Linked DNA regions of Homo sapiens: region 2 is linked to region 1. A link means that fine-mapping ties the variant in region 1 to the expression of a gene that starts in the linked region. Tissue or cell type: whole blood. Region 1 holds a variant in brackets; the other region holds the start of a gene. All regions are shown on one strand. Distances are from middle to middle.

Evidence for each region. PIP is the estimated chance that this variant, and not a neighbour inherited with it, causes the effect.
Region 2: MRPL22 starts here. The variant in region 1 is fine-mapped to the expression of MRPL22 in whole blood (INTERVAL, PIP above 0.99).

Annotation. Positions count from the first base shown.
Region 1 is chr5:154,890,647-154,894,907 of GRCh38, forward strand. GEMIN5 (gem nuclear organelle associated protein 5) reads right to left here. Exons shown (of 28, transcript NM_015465.5): 25 at 1,741-1,903; 26 at 595-1,096. Among named protein-coding and RNA genes, the nearest start is that of CNOT8, 34 kb to the left of the region's middle. The variant T/TAA (reference allele first, on the strand shown) is at 2,609.
Region 2 is chr5:154,938,616-154,942,727 of GRCh38, forward strand. It overlaps MRPL22 (mitochondrial ribosomal protein L22), which reads left to right and starts at 2,458. Exons shown (of 7, transcript NM_014180.4): 1 at 2,458-2,523; 2 at 2,602-2,650. The coding sequence starts at 2,496. RefSeq lists an enhancer at 2,398-2,557.

The sequences.
Region 1 (4,261 bases):
TTTCTAGAGACAGGGTCTCAATATGTAGCCCAGGCTGAACTTGAGCTCCTGGCCTCAAGTGATCCTCCTGCCTCAGCCTCCTAAGTAGCTACAGGGTACATGCCACCACACCTGGTTACTTTATTTGTATTTTTTGAGATGAAGTCTCCCTCTGTTGCCCAGGCTGGAGTGCACTGGTGCGATTTTGACTCACTGCAACCTCTGCTGCCCAGGTTCAAACGATTCTCTGGCCTCAGCCCCCCAAGTAGCTGGAATTACAGGCATGTGCCACCATACCCAGCTAATTTTTAGTAGAGACGGGGTTTCACCATGTTGGCCAGGCTGGTCTCAAACTCCTTACTTCAAGTGATCTGCCCACCTCGGCCTCCCAAAGTGCTGGGATTACAAGCGTGATCCACTGTGCCCGGGCTTTTTTTTTTTTTTTTTTTTTGTAGAGACAGGGTCTCGCTTTTTTGCCCGGGCTGGTGGTGAACTCCTGGGCCAAGTGATCCTCCTGCTTCAGCCTCCCAAAGTGCTGGGATTATAGGCATGAACCACTGTTCCTAGCCAGCAGGGTCATTTTTCATTCCGTCTTGTACTTGCCTCAGTACTTACCACTGGCTCTGAGAACTGCAGAGGGGCTGCTCTGCTTCTACTTCCGGTTCATTCTTATCAGGACCATTTGCTGTGGATTTACAGAGTTGACTCTTTTGGTGTTGTCGGATCATTTCTGCCAAGGTCTCTTGGACTTCAGCAACAGTTCTCTGTGAGTTTTGGAGACTGGCATGCTTTTCTGAAAAGAGCTCCTTAAAAGTACTCAGCATTCGCTCACCTTCTTCTGTGAGTCTCAAGTCTAGTTCTGAAGGCCTGTTTGGCTCTGGCTGAGAAGTTTCAGGGTCCGTTTCTTCAGTGCTGGCAGTGTCTAACTGCTGGCTTGGCTCAACAGAGAGTGTTCTGTGACCAGCCCTTACCCAGACACTGGAATTTGGGCAAGGTCTGGAGAGAGACCACCAGAATTCATACAGACGCCCATAAAGAAAAAAGGCCTCCAAACTTTTGAAAGCTGGTGTGGCAGGGGATTGATGGTCCCCCAACTTGTCTCTTAGGTGGTCACAGCCTAGGAAAAGAGGAAAAAGATACTGGGTCATGCATTTCTCTAGTTGCCAGAAATGTGGCTTCCTGCCCTTATGTTCTATTTCTTATCAACCAAGAAGCAGACCCCAGGAAAAAGGACAACAGTGTGATCCACCGGGCCACATGCCTTTCCACCAAGAGCCAACTGGAGGCTAAACATTTCCTGGCTTGCGACAGTGTTCTCATTACTACATCCTAGGAGTCATTCAAAGCATGATAGAGTATTCCATTTGTACTACTGAAGGCTCTGGGGCCACGACAACAGATCACACTGTCTCTCTGAAAAATCACAATGATTTAGTTCAGTGACTGACTATGCAGCCCAAGGAATGTCTATCTTTTTTGCTGTTCTTTTCTGTTCTTACTAACATGTAACTACATTCCTATTTCTCTCTCCCTTAAACTTTGTGGAAAGTGGACAGGAGGCTGTAAGAGGGTAGGGCCAGGTAAAGGAAACAGTATAGTTGTTCTTAAAAGCTTCGGTAAGAGAATCCAAACTTTCTACTAAAATGACACAGCTGGCCAATCTCCATCTTTTAAGAATCTAGGTACTCCCAGTGCCACACCACTAATGGTGGTGATGTTGTCCATTAAAGGGTGTGCCTCAGGCAGCAGGAAGTCACTTACCGTCAGGGAGAAAGGCTGAGTACACTTCCTGCATGATGGTGAAGCTCCCTGAGTCATAGCTCCGGACCACCGCCCGAAGGAGCGCCTGCACAGCCTCGTCCCAGGAGGCCATCTGTTGGCTCAGCACTGCCAGGGTCAAGTCATGGCAAATGTGAAGCAGGAGCTGGAGAGAGAAGCCAGAGTCTGAGTTAAACATCCTCCCACGGTAGGCGCAGAGGATGCCACCAAACTGTTCCTGTGAACCGCATTTGGAAACAAGTACACACAATTCACACTTTGAAAGTTCCTCTTGTCTCCGCCACCCATTTTTGCTTCCCACATCGGAAACTCTCATGTCTAGTTGCACAGCAGCACACACACGTCCCGGTGTTAAAGTCTGTTCACACTGAGAAAACACCTTTACATTTGCATTTAATTAAAACAAAAAGTGGGCCAGGCGCGGTGGCTCATGCCTGTAATCCCAGCACTTTGGGAGGCCAAGGTGGGCAGATCACAAGGTCAGGAGTTCAAGACCAGCCTGGCCAACATGGTGAAACCCCGCCTCTACTAAAAACACAAAAATTAGCCAGGCATGATGGCGCGTGCCTGTAGTCCCAGCTACTCGGGAGGCTGAGACAGAAGAATTGCTTGAACCCGGAAGGTGGAGGTTGTGGTGAGCTGAGATTGCGCCACTGCACTCCAGTCTGAGCATGAGAGTGAGACTCCCTCTCAAAACAAACAAACAAACAACAAAAACAAAAAGTGAGTTTCTGGAACTAAAAGCTGTAATTAAAAACAAAATAAAGGCTGGGTGCAGTTGCTCACACCTATAACCCCATCACTTTGGGAGGCTGAGGCGGGCGGATCACCCGAGGTGAAAGCCCGTCTC[T/TAA]AAAAAAAAAAAAAAAAAAAAAAAAATTAGCCGGGCTTGGTGGTGCACGCCTGTAATCCCAGCTACTTGGGAGGCTGAGGCGGAAGAATTGCTTGAACCCGAGAGGCGGAGGTTGCAGTAAGCCACTACACCCGAGCCTGGGTGACAGAGTGAGACGCTGTCTCAAAAAAAAAAAATCAAAACCCACCAAAAACAAAACAAAACAAAGCTTGGAGTACAACTAAGAAAAATGTGCTCAATTTTAAGTATGTAGTTTGAGAAACATATATAGTTACAACACTACCAGCAAAATCAAGACAGAACATTTTCATCAACTGAAGATATGCCCTCCGGCTCCTCTGCAGGCGATCTCCTGGCCCCACCCCACTGGCAACCACTGAACTGGTTGTCACTTTAATTTTTTCTTTTCTAGAATTCATATAAATGGAACCACAGAGTATATAGTCTTTTGTGTCTTTAAAGCTTTTGAGATTCACCGATATTCTTCTTCTTCTTCTTTGTTTTTTTGAGATGGAGTCTTGCTCTGTCGCCCAGGCTGGAGTGCAGTGGCACGATCTCGGCTCACTGTAAGCTTGGCCTCCTGGGTTCACACCATTCTCTTGCCTCAGCCTCCAGAGTGGCTGGGACTACAGGAGCCCGCCACCACGCGCGGCTAACACCGATATTATTTGTGTGGCAGTAATTTGTTCCTTTTTACTTTCTTTTTTTGAGACAGGGTCTCATTCTCTTACCCAGGCTGTAGTGCAGTGGTTCCATCTTGGCTCACTGCAGCCTCCGTCTCCCAGATTTGAATGATTCTCCTGCCTTAGCCACCCTAGTACCTGGGATTACAGGCTTGTGCTACCACACCCGGCTAATTTTTGTATTTTTACTAGAGACAGGTTTTTGCCATGTTGCCCAGGCTGGTCTCAAACTCCTGAGCTCAAGCGATCCACCCGCGTTGGCCTCCCAAAGTGCTGGGATTACAGGTGTGAGCCACCAAGACTGGCCCTTTTTATTGTTAAACAGTATAGTATTTCACTGCATAGACACAACACAGTTTGCATATCCATTCATCAGTTGATGGACATTTGGGTTGTTTCTAGTTTTTGGCTACTGTGCACTAAGCTGCTGTAAACATTTGTGTACAAGTCTTTGTGTGGCCATCTGATTTCATTGTTTTAGTGGAATATCTAGGTAGCAGAACTGCTGAGACATGGGGCATGTGCATGTTTAACTTTATAAGAAACTGCCTGGCCAGGCGTGATGGCTCACACTTGTAATCACAGCACTTTGGGAGGCCGAGGCAGGTGGATCACATGAGGTCAGAAGTTCAAGACCAGCCTGGCCAACATGGTGAAACCCTGTCTCTACTAAAAATCTGAAAAATAGGCTGGCTGCAGTGGCTCATGCCTATAATCCCAGCACTTTGGGAGGCCGAAGTGGGCAAATCACGAGGTCAGGAGTTCGAGACCAGCCTGGCCAACATGGTGAAACCCCTGTCTCTACTAAAAATACAAAAAATTAGCCGGGCATGGTGGCAGGTGCCTGTAATCCCAGCTACCCGGGAGGCTGAGGCAAGAGAATTGCTTGAACCTGGGAGGCGGAGATTGCAGTGAGCCAAGATCATGCCACTGTACTCCAGCCCGGGTGACAGAGTGAGACTCCATCTAA
Region 2 (4,112 bases), 48 kb after region 1:
CTCACGCCTGTAATCCCAGCACTTTGGGAGGCCGAGGCGGGAGGATCACGAGGTCAGGAGTTAAAAGACCGGCCTGGTCAGCATAGTGAAACCTCGTCTCTATTAAAAAACAAAAATAAAATAAAATAATAAAATAAGCCGGGTGTGGTGGCAGGCGCCTGTAATCCCAGCTGCTCGGGAGGCTGAGGCAGGAGAATCGCTTGAACCCGGGAGGCGGAAGTTGCTGTGAGCGGAGATCACGCCACTGCACTCTAGCCTGGCCACACAGCGAGACTCCATCTCAAAAAAAAAAAAAAAGTAAAATGCAACAATCCCTAGACAACAAATACTAGGGAGGCTGAGGCAGGAGAATCGCTTGAACCTGGGAGGCGGAAGTTGCAGTGAGCAGAGATTGCGCCACTGCACTCCAGCCTGGGCGACATTGCGAGACTCCATCTCAAATAAAAACAAAACAAAACAAAAAAAGATATGCACAAGAGGCCACTTAACAAAAATATTGTTGTACCTGAGTGAGTTAGAGAAAACGCCACACTTTGAGACGAATTAAGAGTCCATTTGTTTAGCCGGTGGCCAAGAGATGGCTAACGCTCAAAGTTCTCTCAGCCGGAAGAAGAGGCTAGATTTTCTTTTATACTTTGGTTTAGAAAGGGGAGGGGAGTCTAGTTAAAACAATTTTACAGAAATAAAGTAGGCAAAAAGTTAAAAGGATAAATGGTTACAGGAAAGTAAACAGTTCCAGGTGCAGGGGCTTTAAGACTATTTATTACAAGGTGATAGACTGGGGGCTTTGGGTGCTATCAATCAGACGAATTCCTGGGAATTGCGGATATTGCTCGCCACAGTATCTTATCAGTTAATTGCATCTTGGATGTGCTGGGAGTCAGCTTGCACAAGTTAAGTTCTTGAGGAAGGGGCTGCCAGTGAAAGAGCCAAGATGGAGTCTGTCTGGCTCTCTTAGCTAAGCAAGAGTCAATTCAAGTGGAAACAAGGCTAGGTGATCAGAGGAAAAAGGGAGAGTCTAAAAACAGGGTTAGTAAAAACAAGGTTGGGCATTACAATATGGAGTCCGGGAGACAGGCTGGTGTGAGCTGTGATCGAGCCACTGCACTCAAGCCTGGGCAATAGAGTGAGACCCTGTCTCAAAAAAACAAAACAAACAAAAATATGAAAGTACGAATCTGGAATTAAAAAGGGAAAGAACAGTTTCTGCAACTGGGTGGAAATTCTGGCTCTGGGTTCTGGGTACTCAAAGATGAAGGAGAAGCAAATGGAGTGACTCTTGATTTGCTTGATTGAGGGCCAGCTGTGTGAAGGAAGCTGTATGTGGTAAATGGTGTGGAAGAAAGTTTCCTTTCAACTCAAAAATGCTAAAATGCTCAGATTCTGCACTACTCGTGTGTTGCTTGTTTGCATTGGGTATCTGACATTCCTGCATAGGTAGCAAACCGCAATCTGAACTACCTGTTATTCTAATACAGAGGGGTCAAATACATATATTTGAAGGCGTCTAGGGGCACAAATTTGGAGGCACCTAGTCGTAGATTGATCACTGGTTTGCCAGTTGTTAGTTGAGAGACTTTAACATATCCTAAATATGTTTCCTCATTTGAAGAAGGAAAATGATAATCCATGCCTTGTTGGATTGCTGTGAGGAATAAATGAGATTTAGTGAAATACCTGCCTGACATAAGGCAGTAAATGCCAGATGAATATAAACTCATTCTTGAAGGTCAACCAGATTAGTAGGGATTAGGACAGCATACATCATATTTGAACTATTTGCTCTTTAAAAGAGATTTTAGGCTAGGTTTCGTGGCTCATACCTCTAATCCTAGCACTTTGGGAGGCCGAGGAGGGCAGATTGCTTGAGCCCAGGAATTCGAGATCAGCCTGGGCAATTTGGGGAAACTCCTTATCTATAAAAAATACAAAAATTAGCCGGGCGTGGTGATGTGCGCCTGTAGTCACAGCTACTTGGGAGGCTGAGGTAAGAGGGTGGCTTGAGCCCGGGGTCGAGGCTGCAGTGAGACTAGGTCATTGCTACCACACTCCAGCCTAAGCGAGAGAGAGACCCTGTTTCAATAAAATGAAATAAAATAGCTTTCACACTATTTCAACTGATCTTTACAACAAGCTTGTGCCCTAAGGTTAGTCATTTCTGATAAGAAAACTGAGGACCACCGGATTAGGTGGCTTGTTCACGGATTCTGTTCCCCTACTCCTTTCTAGTTTGTGAGTTGGGACTTTAGTTTTTCTGAATCCAGGTGAATTTTCGGAAGCCCACGTGCTTTCGGCCTTTATTAATTAATTCATTCCCAAGCCAGGTTCGCCTGACCACACCTCGAGCGCCGGCCCAGTGCTTGCGATCTTCGTGACGGCACCTGGGGTGTAAGTACTGCTTGTGGGAGAGCCCCACAGGAAATCCAGAGTATTGCGCATGCGTGCTGTCCAGAAGGCGCTTGAACTCGGCGGCTTCCGTAGCGGGAGGGCGAAAGATGGCGGCGGCAGTACTGGGACAGTTGGGTAAGGATTTCTTAGTGGTTAAGCGACAGAAGGGAGTCGAGATGGAATCTGAGTTGACGGCTTGTGTTGATGTTGCAGGTGCGTTATGGATACATAACCTGAGGAGCCGGGGGAAGCTGGCCTTGGGGTGAGTCTCTCGCTTCGGAGTTTCGGAAGGGCCCAAGGCATCTTTAGTATTCTGCCAGTTGGTAACTGAGCGCCTCCGTGCCTAACTGTGTTTTAGGCTCTGGGGTTACTGAGGCGAATGAGACAGCCCGAGTCTCTGCTTTGTCACTCTATTTTTTCTCCACCTTATTGCATAAACTGTACAGGGATCAGGATTACCCATAACCCAAGGGCGATTGTAAATGCGATTTCCGAACGTCTACTGTGATCTTTCTGGACAAGGTTAGACTATTCCATCTCCATATGGAAGCGTCCAACTTTTCAAGTTACCTCTCTGATTACTTGCTTACATGGGCAGGGACCGTGTTGTGGACAACTCTGCTTTACGTCGTACCTGACATTGTGTTTAGCGGTTTATATGCTTTAACTCACTCTCATAACATTCTACGAGTAGGTTCTGCTATACCCGTTTTTCAGACAAGGAAATTGAAGTCCCCAAACGTAAAATAACTTGCCTAAGGCCACTCAGTTGTAGGAAATTTTGAAGCTTTATACCAGAGCATTCTGTAGCCTTAGGACAAAAGCATTCATTAAAGGTTAGGGTAAGTAGTCGCTGTATTTCTCCCCAAAATAAAAAATCGGTATTTGAAAATTGATAATCTGATTGTAAATTTTCTGGTCTGTCCATTTGTTAGCATTGATTTTGGTTTAGTTCATAGGCTTTGCAGACAGATGAGTTGTATATGAATCCATTTTTTAACTGTGATCTTGGAAAAGTTACTTATTCTTAATAAGCTTCAGTTATCACTTTTATGATATGAGCGTTATGTTAGTACCTATCTCTTAGGATTTAAAAAATTTTTTAATTTTTATTTATTTATTTTTTTAGATGAAGTGTTGCTATGTTGCCCATGCTGGTCTCAAACTTAAGGGCTGAAACAATTCTCTTGCCTCAGCCTCCTGAAGTACTGGGATTACAGGCACATGCCATCTATGTAGCTCTAGTAGATTTTAAAAAGGAAATTCAAACAAGATAATGCATATGAAGTATTTAGTATGTTTATGGCATGTGATAATCCCACTCTGAATTCTAGTTGCCATTAATGTTTTTATTATTATAAATTATTACTGAGTTCCCAATTATATTTAACCCTTTTCTAAGTTTTTGGGTCCGAGGGGGATAAAGAGGTGGGCTAAAGAAGAAAATAGGAAGTAGTAGCTCTTAGGATTTGTCTGTACTCTTCTTAGATAATCTTCTATCACTCTTCCCCCAACCATGCTGATTTACTTACTTTTTCTGAATATACTTTGCACTTACTTGCTTCTTGGCTTTTCCTACTATGCCCTCACATCTTGTCTATAACAGCAGTCCTACCCATTATTCAAACCTCTGTTCAGATGTTTTCCCTTCAGGAAGTTTTCACTGGTTTCTCTAAAACGGAAAGAAATTAGTTTTTCCTTCCTTTTAGCATGTGTGCCTTCTA